2 linked regions of the Homo sapiens genome follow. The protein of the gene in region 2 interacts with the protein of the main gene of each other region in a pairwise test. Each region holds a gene or a part of one and is shown on either strand. Other genes may lie near its edges.

The links.
Region 1: the proteins of ZNF250 (region 2) and LZTS1 interact in binary tests that used the Homo sapiens proteins (3 or more experiments, as listed by UniProt).

The regions. Positions count from the first base shown.
Region 1 is NC_000008.11:20,297,322-20,300,972, forward strand, and holds part of LZTS1 (leucine zipper putative tumor suppressor 1), read right to left. Parts: intron 1-3,651. UniProt on the Homo sapiens protein: Involved in the regulation of cell growth. May stabilize the active CDC2-cyclin B1 complex and thereby contribute to the regulation of the cell cycle and the prevention of uncontrolled cell proliferation. May act as a tumor suppressor.
Region 2 is NC_000008.11:144,884,399-144,888,049, reverse strand, and holds part of ZNF250 (zinc finger protein 250), read left to right. Parts: intron 1-1,147; coding exon 1,148-1,210; intron 1,211-3,651. UniProt on the Homo sapiens protein: May be involved in transcriptional regulation.

The sequences.
Region 1 (3,651 bases), about 120 Mb from region 2:
AAGAACTGACATATGATAAATTTCATTCTCTAAAGCAAATGCCAAGTAGACATTCCATTATCCTAGCTACATCCTACTTTATTGTGTTTGTTTGTTTGTTTGTTTGTTTTTGAGACAGAGTCTCGCTTTTTAGCCTAGGTTGCAGTGCAGTGGTGCGATCTCAGCTCACTATAACCTCCGCCTCCCGGGTTCAAGCAATTCTCCCGCCTCAGCCTCCTGAGTAGCTGGGACTACAGGCGTGCACCACCATGCCCAGCTAATTTTTTGTATTTTTAATAGAGATGGGATTTCGCCATGTTGACCAGGCTTGTCTGGAACTCCTGACCTCTGGTGATCGGCTCACCTTGGCCTCCTAAATTGCTGGGATTACAGGCATGAGCCATCACGCCAGGCCCTAGTTTATTGTTTATTGAGCTTAACATATATGCATCACAAGCACTTAGGGAAAAGGGAGATGGGGGGTGAAGTGAGCACAGAAAAACTGAGGAAGATTCGAATGCCCTCATCATGCTTGAATTACAATAAATACAAAAGTAACTGCATTCTTATAATTTTAAAAATCTCTTTTTCCTGCATATTAAACACTTGCCAACAATTCGATGAGCCTAAATCCATTTAATTGGTGAACCCCAATGACTTGGTAGTTACAGCCCAACATTGGGACTCAGAACAGCTGGTGTTCATATCTCAGCATTCCTCTTAAAAATCTTGCATAAACTCTTTCACCTTTCTTTTTTTTTGTTTTTTATTTATTTTTTGAGACAAAGTCTTGCTCTGTCACCCAGCCTGGAGTGCAGCAGTGTGATCTCCACTCACTGCAACCTCCACCTCCCGGGTTCAAGAGATTCTCCTGTCTCAGCCTCCCAAGTAGCTGGAACTACAGGCGTGCACCACCACACCTGGCTCATTTTTGTAGTTTTAGTAGAGACAGGGCTTCATCATGGTGGCCAGGCTGGTCTTGAACTCCTGACCTCAGATGATAAGCCCACCTCAGTCTCCCAAAGTGCTAGGAATACAGGCATGAGCCACCGTGCCCAGCCCTCCTTCAACTTTCAAAGGCGCACTTGGTTTCCTCATCTGCCAAATGGCAAAGGGAATCTTCTCACAGAGTTGTTGTGAGGTGTAAATAATAATAATAATAATTTTATTCCACTTTTTAAAGTGTAAAGTCCTGTACAAGTAAAAAGCGCTATTGAAATCACCATTAAGGAAGTCTAGGGATGGTGGAAGTCAGTGTCCAGCAGGAAGCAACAGTGTGAGGCTGGATGCGGTGGCTCACACCTAGAATCCCAACACTCTGGGAAGCCAAAGTGGGAGGATCACTTGAGGCCAGGGGTTCAAGACCAGCCTGAGCAACATAGCGAGACCTTATTTCTACAAAAATTAAAAACAATTAGCCAGGTGTGTTGGTATGCACTTGTGGTCCCAGCTACTTGGGAGTCTGAGGAGAGAGGACTGGGGATCACTTGAGCTTAGGAGGTCAAGATTGCAGTAAGCTGAGCCGTGATCACATCACTGCACTCCATCCTGAGAGAAACAGCAAGATCTTGTCTCTAAAAAACAAACAAAAAACCAGTGTGAGAGACACAGGATGAAAACTGCAGCAAAACAGAGGGCTTTGCCAAATGGCAAAAGGAGCTAACTAGCCGTAAGCTCACCAGCTATGCTCGACTGTAGCTGACACATCCCCATCAACTTCTCCAACCCTGGGAGGAGGGATCTGGAGGCTAATTTGCACGCTGGCTGGAGGCAGTGGTGAGAGGTGAGAGGTTGAAAACCTCCCATTTTTTATGCACCACCTCTGTTTGGTCTGGGTGGCTGGCCAAACCCAGCATAAGGAGGCAACAGGCTCTGGCTAAGGTTCTTGGAAGAGAGAGCCCTGTCTCCTCAGCTCTCAGCTTGCATCTTGGAGCCATGAACTTGGCTCCTGCTTCGCTGACTCCCTTCATACCCTCCTCAGGTTCAACTTCAAGGTTCAGTTCACAGCCACCTCCTCCCTGGTAAGGAAGGTTCTGGCTCACCTGCCTCCTGCTGAGAAACTGCTGTATTCAAAGTTAGTATTTTAATTGCAAAAACCACAATTACTTTTGCAGCAACCTAATACAATCCAGTTTTCAACTTACTTGTCATTGGTTCAGGTGTGCCAGTTCTTCTTCCCAACTGTCATCACAAATTTTAGTCTCTAAGCATTATTTCGTCTTTTTTGCTGTTATTCCCCACTCCCTGGCACCTCACACGGATAAGACCTTTAATAAATAGTGAAATGCAGAGTTTTTCAAACTTGATCAATGATCTTTAAAAGAAAAACTTAAATCGCCATGGAGCCCCGAGAACACAGGTAGTAATTCCTATATGAGAAATAACAGGGCGATGGAAAGGAGATGGAAGGAGAATCACTTGACTGCGTCGCCTCGGAGAAATCATGGCCAGATTACCTCCCCAAACATGGTAGCAATTCACACTCTCAACTGCAAGCCTAGGAGTGTCCATTTCAGGCTTCAAACTGTAGCAGCACAAAGATCTATTCAACAGCAAACTCAAAGAGCTAATATGTAAATCACCTCAAGATTCCCCACGTAGTTGGATACTTCTTTGTTGGCAAAATCCCAGAAACATCTCATCATTGCCCTGGAACCATGTGGCGGCTCAAAGTGCAGGATTTTAAAACCCCAGGTCTAGGTCACACCTAGAATGGTCCCCTTCCATAACTGTGCTTGTGGGTTGATTGACCTGGAGATAGAGTGGGTGGGGGCGAGTGTTCCCTCGGACTCCCGAACTGTTGGTGGGGCCTGAGATGGCCCCATCTAGGGAGAGGCCTTGAAGGAGCTGGCCCAGTAACAGAGGAAGGAAAGTCAGTGGCCACACTAGCAAAGGGCACCCATGCAGAAATCCACTGTTGGGAACAGTGCTCCCTGCCAAAGGTCTCTGAGAGCTCTCATCTTTCCCCTTACCTTATTAAACAAGCATTTACTAAGGGCATACTCATAGTATCTACTGAAAGCCAACACTGTATTTTTTTTTTCTTTTTTGAGACGGAGTCTCTCTCTGTTGCCCAGACTGGAGTGCAGTGATGTGATCTCGGCTCACTGCAAGCTCCCCCTCCCGGGTTCACGCCATTCTCCTGCCTCAGCCTCCCAAGTAGCTGGGACTACAGGTGCCCGCCACGACGCCCGGCTAATTTTTTGTATTTTTAGTAGAGACGGTGTTTCACCGTGTTAGCCAGGATGGTCTCGATCTCCTGACCTCGTGATCCACCTGCCTCAGCCTCCCAAAGTGCTGAGATTACAAGCGTGAGCCACAGCGCCCCGCCGCCAACACTGTATTTTGAGCTGGGAACTCATGATGCAATCTCTGCTTCTAGGAGTTTTGTAGACTCCTCAGGAGCCAGTGAGTAAATGCCATAATATACTGGTATGATGGTAGGGACTCTGAGGAAGGTACCTGACTCAGAATTGAGGAAAAAACAGAGGAAACTTTCTTGGAGGAGTTGATCCCTATGGTTAAAACCCACAGTGGGGCTGGGTGTGGTGGCTCCTGCCTGTAATCCCAACACTTTGGGAGGCTGAGGCCAGCAGATCACTTGAGGTCAGGAGTTCAAGACCAGCCTGACCAGCATGACAAAACCCCATCTCTACTAAAAATATAAAAGAT
Region 2 (3,651 bases):
TGCCATAATGTGCCCCACTTGGGGAGAGTAGGGACAGTTTGGGCAACACCTCCATTGGCTGATCAGCTTCAGCATTTCAGATGTGGTGGTTTTCCCCTTGAAAGCTCCTCCTTATTTCTAAAGTAGCTTTATGTGGATAGGGCACCAGGTATTACAGTCTACCTCTTACTGGCCTGCAAAATCAGATATCCTCAGAGGAACAAGGTACATGCCAGCCTTAGAGGAATTTAATTTTCCAGTGACTATACAAGAAGACACATCATCATGTCTTGGAAATCTTGCATAGAACTTCTGCTTACTGACTGCAGCTGTAGGAGACAAGAAAACACAGGAGGGCATTTTGCTGCCACTGCCAAACCAGTCCTGGGCTCCCTTGTGTCCAGCTATGTACTCGCCTGATGGAGAGCTTAAACTGCCTTTGAGCGCCCTTTGATTTGACACCACAGAGACTGTGAAATTCTCTGGGAGCATGGCTGGTTGGAGATGAGAAGTTTTTTCATGGAAGCACCTGGTCCCCTCACCTCTAACACAGGCCACAGAGGACGATGGGACTGAGTTTTAGATTACTGATGTGCATAGAAACAGAAGCCACCTGCCACAACCTGGATCACTGCCACTAGCATCAGAGCAAGCGAGGAGTAGATATGCCTTTGTCTTGTCCTGGCAGTTCCTCAGGATGGATAAGTGTGTGCACCTGCCCAGCCCTGACCCTGCTGTTTGTAACTCAGTAAATTACATGTTGTAATAGCAACGAAAGGATTTTCCACTCTTTTTTTTTTTTTTTTTTTTTTTTTTTTGAGAGACGGAGTTTCACTCTGTCCCCCAGGCTGGAGTGCAGTAGTGTGATCTCGGCTCACTGCAACTTCTTGTCTCCGGGGTTCAAGCGATTCTCCTGCCTCAGCTTCCCTAGTAGTGGGGACTACAGGCATGCACCACCATGTCCAGCTAATTTTTGTATTTTTTAGTAGAGACGGGGTTTCACTATATGTTGGCCAGGCTGGTCTCAAACTTCTGACCTCAAGTGATCCACTCACCTTGGCCTCCCAAAGTGCTGGGATTACAGACGTGAGCCACCATGCCCGGCCAGGATTTTCCACTCTTGAAGGGAGTATTTTGTTGTCACTTCAACTCGCTGTTTTTTTTCCAGACAACCTCAAATATGACCACACTACAGCCTGTACACAACAAGACAGTTTATCTTGTCCATGGGGTAAGTGTATGCCTGATCTTTTTAATTCAGTACAATCTCTGAAGGTGTTAACACTAATGTTTTACAAGAATGTAGAGGCGACTCGGTGCTATGAAGCGTGTTAAACAACTCACACAATTGCTACAAAACACCAGGGAGGGGCTTTTTGTGTTTTTAATTTTTAAAACATTTTTCCTTTTCTTGTGAGCCATAGTAGGCCTAGAGAGATTACTGGGTTTTTATAATTAAACATTTATTTCGGTGAAATCATTTTGTTTCCTTTTATTTGTTCCGTCATGCTTAAAACATACTTCCCTACTTTATACTTAACAACCAAAACCATTATTCTAAAAGCAAGTGACTCTTGGCTGAAGTCCAGCTTCTGCACAGTATGGATGCAAGGTGCAGGCAAGTTTGGCCTTCACAGCAACTTGATTCTGTCTCACAAGCAGTCATATGATGCTTTCGTGCCATGGATGATTGAGCGAGTAGTCTCTTATGCAGTTAGTTTAGTGTGTGTGTGTGTTTTCTTTTTTTCAGGCTGGAGTGCAGTGTAGAGACAGAGTCTTGCTGTGTTGCCCAAGCTGGTCTCAAACTCCTGGGCTCAAGCAATCCTCCTGCCTCAGCCTCCCAACATGCTGGGATTACCGGCATGAGCCACTGTGCCTGGCCTGTGTTTTTATTATTAAAGACATCTTGTCTATCTTGTTACCCTGGCATCAGGTCAGAAGCCGCCCATTCAGGAAACTTTTTTTTTTTTTTTTTAGACAGGCTCTCACTCTGTTGCCCAGGCTGGAGTGCAGTGGCATAATCACGGCTCACCAGTCTCAACCTCCTGGACTCAAGCAATCCTCCCACAACAGCTTCCCGAGAGTAGCTATAACCACAGGTGTACACCACCATGCCCAGCTAATTTTTGTAGAGACGGGGTTTCACCATGTTGCGCAAGCTGGTCTCAAACTCCTGGCCTCAAGTGATCCTCCCACCTTGCCCTCCCGAAGTGCTGGGATTACAGACATGAGCCACCACACCGGGTGAAACTTCAGACAATAGAAGTAATACTTTTCAGTGTAAATGAGTAACTATTTCTTTAGCCTATAGGCTTTTATTCCATGAAGATGAGGCTTATACATTAAAAAAAGAAAGAACTAAAACTTCTATCAGTTTAAAAAACACATAGCCAGCTTAGGCAAGATACTGAGACCCCACACTACAAAATAAAATTAAAAATTAGCCAGACATGATGGTGCATTCCTGTAATCCCAGCCACATGGAGGCTGAGACAGGAGGATTCCTTGAGCCCAGGAGGTTGAGGTTGCAGTAAGCCATGATCACACCACTGCACTCCAGCCTGGGTGATAGAGTGAGACCCTGTCTCAAAAAAAAACCCACATAGAGTGACTTTCTAAAATGAGATATGTTAAAAATTGTATTAAACTGGGCCGGGGGTGGTGGCTCATGCCTGTAATCTCAGCACTTTGGGAGGCCGAGGCAGATGGACCACCTGAGGTCAGGAGTTTGAAACCAAGCTGGCCAACATGGTGAAACCCCATCTCTACTAAAAATACAAAAAATTATCTGGGCATGGTGGCACATGCCTGTAATCCCAGCTACTTGGGAGGCTGAGGCAGGAGAATCGCTTGAACCTGGGAGGCAGAGGTTGCGGTGAGCTGAGATCGTGCCATTGCACTCCAGCCTGGGCAACAAGAACGAAACTCTGTCTCAAAAAAATTGTATTAAACTGAAGACAGTGAATTTAAATTTTTTTATTAAAAAAACTGTTAAATTCTCACTGTTTCAATTTGTCAATACACTTAATAAATTCCTCTGAATAGAATAAAAAGACGCAGAATTACCCAAAAAGAAAAGTAGGCACAAATTTCTGCATAGATTAGGAAAACCAAAGGGCCAATAAATAAGAAAACTGCTCAGCCTCATTATTCATCAGTAAAGTGGAAATCAAAACCACTGTGACATGATGTTACACCTTCAGAATGGAAAAAATGGAAAGATCTGACAATATAACATGTGGGTGAGGATGCAGGGCAGCTAATAGGGATGTAAATTCACATAGCCACTTTGGAAAAGTTTGGCATTATCCAATGAAATTGAAAACATGATCACATTCTGAGAGAATGGAGGTAAAAAAAATGAAAAAAAAAATCGAAAACATGAATTCCTATGTTCACCACTTCCCACTCTTGCATATGTATACAGCAAGGACATTTGTGTGTAAGCACCAGGAAACATAGGAGAATCTTCACAGAAGCATGCTTCATGATTTAAAAAAACATTTGAAAAGAATTCAGGACCGGGCGCCGTGGCTCCTGCCTGTAATCCCAGCACTTTGGGAGGCCGAGGTGGGTAGATCACGAAGTCAGGAGTTTGAGGCCATCCTGGCCAACATGGTGAAACCCTGTCTCTACTGAAGATACAAAAAAATTAGCCAGCCATGGTGGCAT